Linked DNA regions of Homo sapiens. The protein of the gene in region 2 purifies or fractionates together with the protein of the main gene of each other region. This does not show direct contact. Each region holds a gene or a part of one and is shown on either strand. Other genes may lie near its edges.

What was found.
Region 1: the proteins of NTAN1 (region 2) and MGAT5B purify together in Homo sapiens (affinity purification with mass spectrometry; one large-scale study listed by BioGRID and IntAct). This does not show direct contact.

The regions. Positions count from the first base shown.
Region 1 is NC_000017.11:76,941,352-76,945,161, reverse strand, and holds part of MGAT5B (alpha-1,6-mannosylglycoprotein 6-beta-N-acetylglucosaminyltransferase B), read right to left. Parts: intron 1,060-3,810; coding exon of another isoform or gene 988-1,059; exon of another isoform or gene 1-987. UniProt on the Homo sapiens protein: Glycosyltransferase that acts on alpha-linked mannose of N-glycans and O-mannosyl glycans.
Region 2 is NC_000016.10:15,042,390-15,046,199, reverse strand, and holds part of NTAN1 (protein N-terminal asparagine amidohydrolase), read left to right. Parts: intron 1-1,792; coding exon 1,793-1,866; intron 1,867-3,810. UniProt on the Homo sapiens protein: N-terminal asparagine deamidase that mediates deamidation of N-terminal asparagine residues to aspartate. Required for the ubiquitin-dependent turnover of intracellular proteins that initiate with Met-Asn.

The DNA.
Region 1 (3,810 bases), on a different chromosome or scaffold from region 2:
TTCTTAACCAACCAACCCCTTCCTGTTCCATTAACCTTCTCAGGCCCAGTGCAGAGCCACCGTGGAGAAAATCACTGACCTGAAAGGGCAGGGGCAGCAGTCAGGACTCAGGAAGGAGCCATCCCGGACTCAGAGAAAGGTCTGTTTTAGGCTTCAACCTCCCCACCCCACCATGCCTGGTGGCACCTGACCTGGCCCAGCCCATCTCCTAATGAGGCCGCTTTCCCGTCTTTAGCCAGTGGGTGAAATCTAACTGTTTGACTCAAGCCTGCAACCACCTCCTTTCTTCCTCATCAGCGTTGGGTGGTGCTAGAAAGTCCAACTGCGCCAAGCTCGGTCCTGCCTTCTGTGTACCCCACTTCTTAGGAGACTCGTCCTGGGGCCTCTGGCCAAGGGGACATCCCTGACACTCAAGGGTCCCAGGGAAGCGGCAGTCACTGATGTCCTTGAAGCCGGACATTGCCCCAGCACTGACGTCCCCCTGCACTGTGCGTGGGTATTCTCAACGCTGGGGCAAGTTCGAAGTCCCGGAGAATCTGCAGGTCCCATCCCCAGCCCAGCCTTGAAGCCCCGTGCTCTGCACAGCCCTGTCCCGACCTGCTCTCATTCCCGAGCCGATGGCCCAAGAAGACCCTGGCAGCCAGTTGCTGCCCCAGCTGGTTCCCTAAACACTCATGACGAAGTCCTGGGAGCCTCTGAGCCCCACACACTTCTGGGGGTCTTGCGGGGACAAGGCTTCACTCTCAGGTTATAAATAAAACTCCCCAGAGAAGAGCTTTCCCCTCCAAATGCCGCTCCCCGGCTCCGTGACAGCAAATCTCTGAGTTACTCTTGCTCCTGTGTCTGTAAGCCCTTGTCACAAGATAATTCAAAGGTCCCTGTGTGAAGCAAACACTCACGGCCAACGACGACGACGACGTTCCGCCTGCCACGAATCTCCTGCCGGAGGAGCCAGCCTGCCTGGCCTGGAAATTACCCCCATTAGGTCTAATTACAGGTGTGCGCCCTAATCAGTCTCGACAGAGTGACAGGTGCTGATCCTGCCTGGGAACTGCTGGCCTGCGGGAATGACAGCAGGGAGGGGTGCAGCGGAAGCCAGTGTTGGCATCACCTTGAATGGCCTTGCTCTGGACACAGAGATGTCCACAGGCAAACCCAGGGAGGTGCAGAGACACAGAAGGGGTGCCGGGCCCTGGTTTTCCATGGCTGTCAGGCCCGGGGCCGGCTCGCTGTGTCTTAGACCTCCCTCTTCTCACCTCTTCTTCTCACCTCTTTCTCCCCATCCTGGCCGCTCCTCCCTCCCTCTCCCTGTAAAAGGCCACATGACTTGCAGAACAAGCCACTCCCCATGATGGCAGCCCTCATTTGCTCTCAGCCTCCACCAGCTGTCCCTAAATCTGTTTTCTAAAATAGAATTATTAGGCCGGGCATGGTGGCTCATGCCTGTAATCCCAGCTCTTTGGGAGGCCGAGGCGGGAGGATTGCTTGTGCCCAGGAGTTCGAGACTGGCCTGGGCAACAAAATGAGACCCCCCCCCCACCCCACCCCATCTCTATTCAAATAATATAAAAAGAAAATTTTAAAAAAATAATAAAATGGGAAGATTAGAATTACCCAGAGTTCTTGTTTAAAATGCAGATTCCCACGCGAAGCTGGGTCCTATTAAATGGGAAGGTGCGGGATAGGCTCGAGGATCTGCATTTAAGGCCCTCCCCCCGGGTGACTCTTGGGCACATAAATGTTTTTGAGCTGCTGTGAGCTGAGGGGGTGAGCTGTTATGCGGAGGGGTGGGGCCCACAGAAGGGAGGGGTCTGAAGGCAGAGGGGCCTCCGTTGGTTTGGGGCCCAGCACAAATCTCAGCTGGTCAGATTTGCAATACCTTGCTTCCTTAATCCTTTTGTAATTGTTATTTTTTAATTAACTAATTAACAAAATTAAACAGATGTTCATGTAAAAAAAAACCAAACAGGAAAGCAATGAAAGGGAAGTTTCCTCTCACCGCAGACAGTCAGTCCTTCCCCCAGTTATCAATTTCTTGTGTGTCCCACCAGAAATACCCGCGACTATCGCAGCACCTTCATGCACACAGCCCTCCCCCGACCCCGCTTTCTGGGCCTCCCGGGGGGGCAAGTTATCCCCAAGGTGGAGTGTCTCGCTCTTTTAGCTTAACAATGTGTCTTGGAGGTTGGGCCAAACGCTGCTCCCCACATTGGAAAAGTCTATGTAGTCCCCCTCCCCAGCCTTGCCCGAGCCCCTCTGCAGGAGAAGTCTTAGAGGATTGGTTTGCAAGGGGAGGGGAGAGGGAGGAGAGCAGAGGGAGGTGGGTGGAGAAGTGGGAGAAGAAGCTGGAGGAGACTGTGGGGTGACAGGAGCCCCCTTGCCTACCTGTACGCCTTGTTGCCAGCTTCCCCGTGCAGGGGGCTGGGGTTGGTCAGTTTCCAGCAGTGAAATTAATCAGTTAACCCCCTTCACTCTTCTTTCCTATGCACTGAGGTCCCTACCTAAGGCCTCCTTCCTGGCACTGGTACTTCTAGCCCCATTTAAGCCTATAAGCTGGTACCAGTCAAATACCTGGCCCTCTTCCTAGGGCGTGGCCAAGGGGCCAAGTTCCTATTTATCTTTTTAAAATTTTTTTGAGATGGAGTCTCGCTCTGTCACCGAGGCTGGAGTGCAGTGGCATGATCTCGGCTCACTGTAACCTCCACCTCCCAGGTTCAAGCGATTCTCCTGCCTCAGCCTCTTGGTGGATCACAGTCGTGTGCCACCACGCCTGTCTAAATTTCTTTTTGTATTTTTAGTAGAGATGGGGTTTCACCATGTTGGCCAGGCTGCTCTCAAACTCCTGGCCTCAAGTGATCCGCCCGCTTCGGCCTCCCAAAGTGCAGGGATTACAGGTGTGAGCCCCTGCTCCTGGCCTCTAGTTGCTTTTGCTCTACAAGGCCTTGCCAGAACTTAAGCCACCAGCCCAGGACAGGGGACAACACTGCGTTGAGAGCTAGCAAGGGAGCTTTTTATCCCTCCCCACTCTGTCTAGGCCGGTGCTTTGCTAGGATCCAGCATTACAAGGTCACACAACCTCTCCCTGCAGCAGGGCCATCAGCGCCCCACCCTCCGTCACCGGTGACTCCACCTCAAGGCTGTCTCTGGCCTGCCGAGCCCATCTGTGTGCAGGCCAAAAGTGTCAGGAACTGGCATCCCAGGCACCACCCTCAGCCACAGATGGATGGGAAGAGGAGGATACCTACCCTAGCCTCTTTCTCCTCGGGCAGGACAGCTCTGGGATGTGACCTACCCCATCTTGCAGAGGCCCCCGTGGTGATGAGCTCCAGGTGCCACCTGCTGATACACACCCTGCCTCACCTGGCACCTCCGTGCCTGCTTCCTGGGGTTGCCTCCCAAATAAGCTACTGCTAAAATCCCTGTTTTCATGTTACTTCCTGGAGGAATCCAATCTCAGACAGTCCCTAACTTTGAGAAACCTGCCATGTTGGCCAGGCTGCTCTCAAACTCCTGGCCTCAAGTGAGCTGCCCGCCTCGGCCTCCCAAAGTGCTGGATTACAGGCGGGAGCCACCATTCCCGGCCTGGAGCAATTATTTTTGCTCAGCCTATCATCTGAGCTATAGCAAGAAGGGGATCCAGGAGAACCATAGTGAGAGGAGGCTCTCTCGTTCACCAGGTCTGAGCCTCCCCAGAATGAAGGAACCAGCCAAGCACAAGGCACGATCAAAAGCCACAAACATGTCCACTGCGGAGATGAGCATCAGGCACAAGCCCCTCCTCACTCTCACCCAGCCCACACATGTGCACCT
Region 2 (3,810 bases):
GGTCTGTGCCAAGGCTGGGCTGGCTTCATGGACACGTGACCCATGCAGGCCCAAAATGGTATTTTCATTTTCCTATCATCTTGGCCCCCGCAGGGGGACGTAATCAATGCCATTATGTTGCCACACACTCTGCTCCGTGGTTCTCAGAACGTGCTTGTCAGCTCTTCCTGATCTGTTGTAGAACTGTGATCGCTCAGGGAGTCAGAGGCAAACCTGGTGGCCCAGTGGCAAAGCCATGGTGGTCGCAGCTCTCCTTACTGCTACTACTTGGAGTTTATTATGAGGCCCCTTGAGGCTGTGCCCTATGTTGGGTACATCCAAGCTTCTGGTTCATCCCTTAGGAAGATTTTGTGTCTGAGAAGGCAGCGTAAAGTCTGGCAACACTTTGCCGAGCGTGAATTCGCCCACTTGACGGGCTGTGGAAAAGGGGGTTAGTAGATGAGTGTGGGAAACACTGGGTTCAAGAAAGTTAGTTGGATTTTTCAGTCGCAGGACTTCTCAAGAGCTTCACTGTGCAATGCGCAGTGTGACTCCTAAGGAGGGCTTCCAGCAGGCAGTTGCCCAGTCTTTTTGTTTTGTTTTGTTTTTGTTTTAGAGCCGGGGTTTCACCCTGTCACCCAGGCTAGTCTCAAACTTCTGGGCTGAAGCATTCCTTCCACCTCTGCCTCCCGCGTAGCTGGGAATAGAGGTATATGCCAGCACACCTGGCCTCAAACCTTTTTTTTTTTTTTTTGAGACAGAGTCTGGCTCTGTCACCCAGGCTGGCATGCAGTGATGCAATCTTGGCTCACTGCAACCTCTGCCTCCTGGGTCCAAGTGATTCTCCTGCCTCAGCCTCCCGAGTAGCCGGGATTACAGACGCCCACCACCACGCCCAACTTACTTATTTATTTTTTCCCCCTGAGACGGAGTCTTGCTCGATTGCCCAGAGCTGGAGTGCAGTGGCGCGATCTCAGCTCACTGCAACCTCTGCCTCCCAGGTTCAAGCAATTCTCCTGCCTCAGCTTCCCGAGTAGCTGGGATTACAGGTGTGCCACCATGCCCGGCTAATTTCTTTTCTTTTTTTTTTTTTTTTTGAGATAGAGTCTTACTCTGTAGCCCAAGCTGGAGTGCAGTGGCACGATCTTGACTCACTGCAACCTCTGCCTCCCAGGGTCAAGCAGTTCTCCTGCCTTAGCCTCCCAAGTAGCTGGGACTACAGGCACATGCCATAATGTCCAGCTAATTTTTTTTTGTATTTTAGTAGAGATGGAGTTTTACCTTGTTGCCCAGGCTGGTTGCAAACTCCTGAGCTCAAGCAATCTGCCCGCCTCAGCCTCCCAAAGTGCTGGGATTACAGGCGTGAGCCACTGCGCCCGGCCTAATTTTTGTATTTTTAGTAGAGATGGGGTTTTACCATGTTGGCCAGGCTGGTCTCAAGACTCCTAACCTCAAGTGATCCGCCCACCTCAGCCTCCCAAAGTGCTAGGATTACAGATGTGAGCCACTGCACCTGTCCTGTGCCTGTGCTCTTCCAGAGCAAAGTTCCCCACTGGTGCATGGAGGCGGCATCACATTTGTGTTCAGATACGGATCCCCTCAGTCATCAGGGCCCCTGGGCAGGGTCCCCAGAAGCTCGCCACTGGCCTTGGCAGTGTGCTGCCGATACTTTCTTTTGCGGTGGCACGAAGATGACCTGCAGCTCTGCTGTAGAGCAAGTGTTCATGGAAACTGAGAATGAAAGTTCAAAGTGAGACCAGCGCACGCACCGGTGTCTTCTTCTGGCCTCTGACCCGTCTCATCTCTTTGCCAGGCTGGAAGTACACCTTGTTGGAGGCTTCAGTGACGACAGGCAGTTGTCACAAAAACTCACTCATCAACTTCTTAGTAAGTTCATTTTTTTTTTCTTTCCCCCAAATTGGACATAAATATGTACCCATATTTGCTTGGGTTAAAAATCCCAATTGGTACAAAACCCAAGAAGGGCACACCCACTTGGAGCAGCACAGAGAAACAGACTGCCCAGCTTGGAATTTCACAGAAAGACTGAATGCGTGGAGCTCATGTGTAGGGAGGGGTAGCAGGGCTGGGGACAAGATTTTCTACTAAAACAGCAGTGAACACATTCCAAAATAGTAAGTGCTCTGAATTGTGTGAAAGCAGAGCCACCCTCCCTCCTGGCAAAAATGTCCATTTTAATCTGCAGAAAATTAAAACACTGATGATACCATTTTTTCCCTATTAGCAAATTTTTTCTTTTTTTTTCTTTTTTTGAGATGTAGTCTTGCTCTGTTGCCCAAGTTGGAGTGCAGTAGCATGATCTCGGCTCACTGCAAGCTCTGCCTCCTGGGTTCAAGCAATTCTCTTGCCTCACCCTCCTGAGTAGCTGGGATCACAGGCGTGCGCCACCACACCCACCTAATTTTTGTATTTTTGGTAGAAATGGGGTTTCACCATGTTGGCCAGGCTGGTTGTGAACTCCCGACCTGGTGATGCACCTGCCTCGGCCTCTTAAAGTGCTGGGATTACAGGTGTGAGTCACCACACCTGGCCTAAATTAGCAAATATTTTCAAAAAAGAAAGAAAGAAAACATTGTCGTGTGTTGACTAACCACCAGGCCATGAAGCAAGCTTACTCATATGATGGTACAGCCTGTCTGGGAAGCAATTTGGCATCATGACTGAAGGCCTCACTCTGCCACTCAGGCTGTAGTGCAGTGGCGCCATCATGGCTCACTGCAGCCTCAACCTACTGGGCTCAAGTGATCCTCCCTCCTCAGCCTCCCAAGTAGCTGTGACTAGGTGCATGCCACCATGCCCAGCTGATTTTTAAATTTTTTGTGGAGACAGGGTCTCGCCATAACTCTTAAAAAAGGTTCATATCCGGCCGGGCACGGTGGCTCATGCCTGTAATCCCAGCACTTTGGGAGGCCAAGGCAGGTGGATCACCTAAGGTCAGGAGTTCGACACCAGCCTGGGCAACATGGTGAAACTCTGTCTCTACTAAAATTACAAAAATTAGGCCGGGTGCGGTGGCTCATGCCTGTAATCCCAGCACTTTGGGAGTTCAAGGCAGGCCGATCACTTGAGGTCAGAAGTTCAAGACCAGCCTGACCAACATGGAGAAACCCCGTCTCTACTAAAAATACAAAATTAGCCAGGCATGGTGGTGCATGCCTGTAATCCCAGCTACTTGGGAGGCTGAGGCAGGAGAACCGCTTGAACCCGGGAGGTATAGGTTGCGGTGAGCTGAGATCACACCATTGCACTCCAGCATGGGCATCAAGAGCTAAACTCCATCTCAAAAAAAAAAAAAAAAAATTAGCTGGGCATGGTGGCGCACGCCTGTAATCCCAGCTATTCAGGAGGCTGAGGCAGGAGAATCGCTTGAATCTAGGAGGTGGAGGTTGCAGTGAGCTGAGATCACACCACTGCACTCCAGCCTGGGTGACAGAGCGAGACTTCGTCTCAATAAATAAATAAATAAATAAATAAATAAATAGTTCATCCTTTGACCCAGTAATTCCCCTTGTGGAAATATATGCTAAGAAAATAATCTGAAATGTGCATAGAGATTTGAACCTGAAGATGAGCGGTAGAACATTACTTATAACAGGAAATCTGGTGTCATCAGAATAATAATTATGTAGTCGCTAAAAAATAACACATGAAAGGGTGAGAATTACATGGGAAAATACCTATGCACAAGCAAATCAGGATATAAAATTGTCGACTGGGCGCAGTGGCTCATTCCTGTAATCCCAGAACTTTGGGCAGCCGAGGCAGGTGGATCACTTTAGGTCACGAGTTCGAGACCAGCCTGGCCAACAT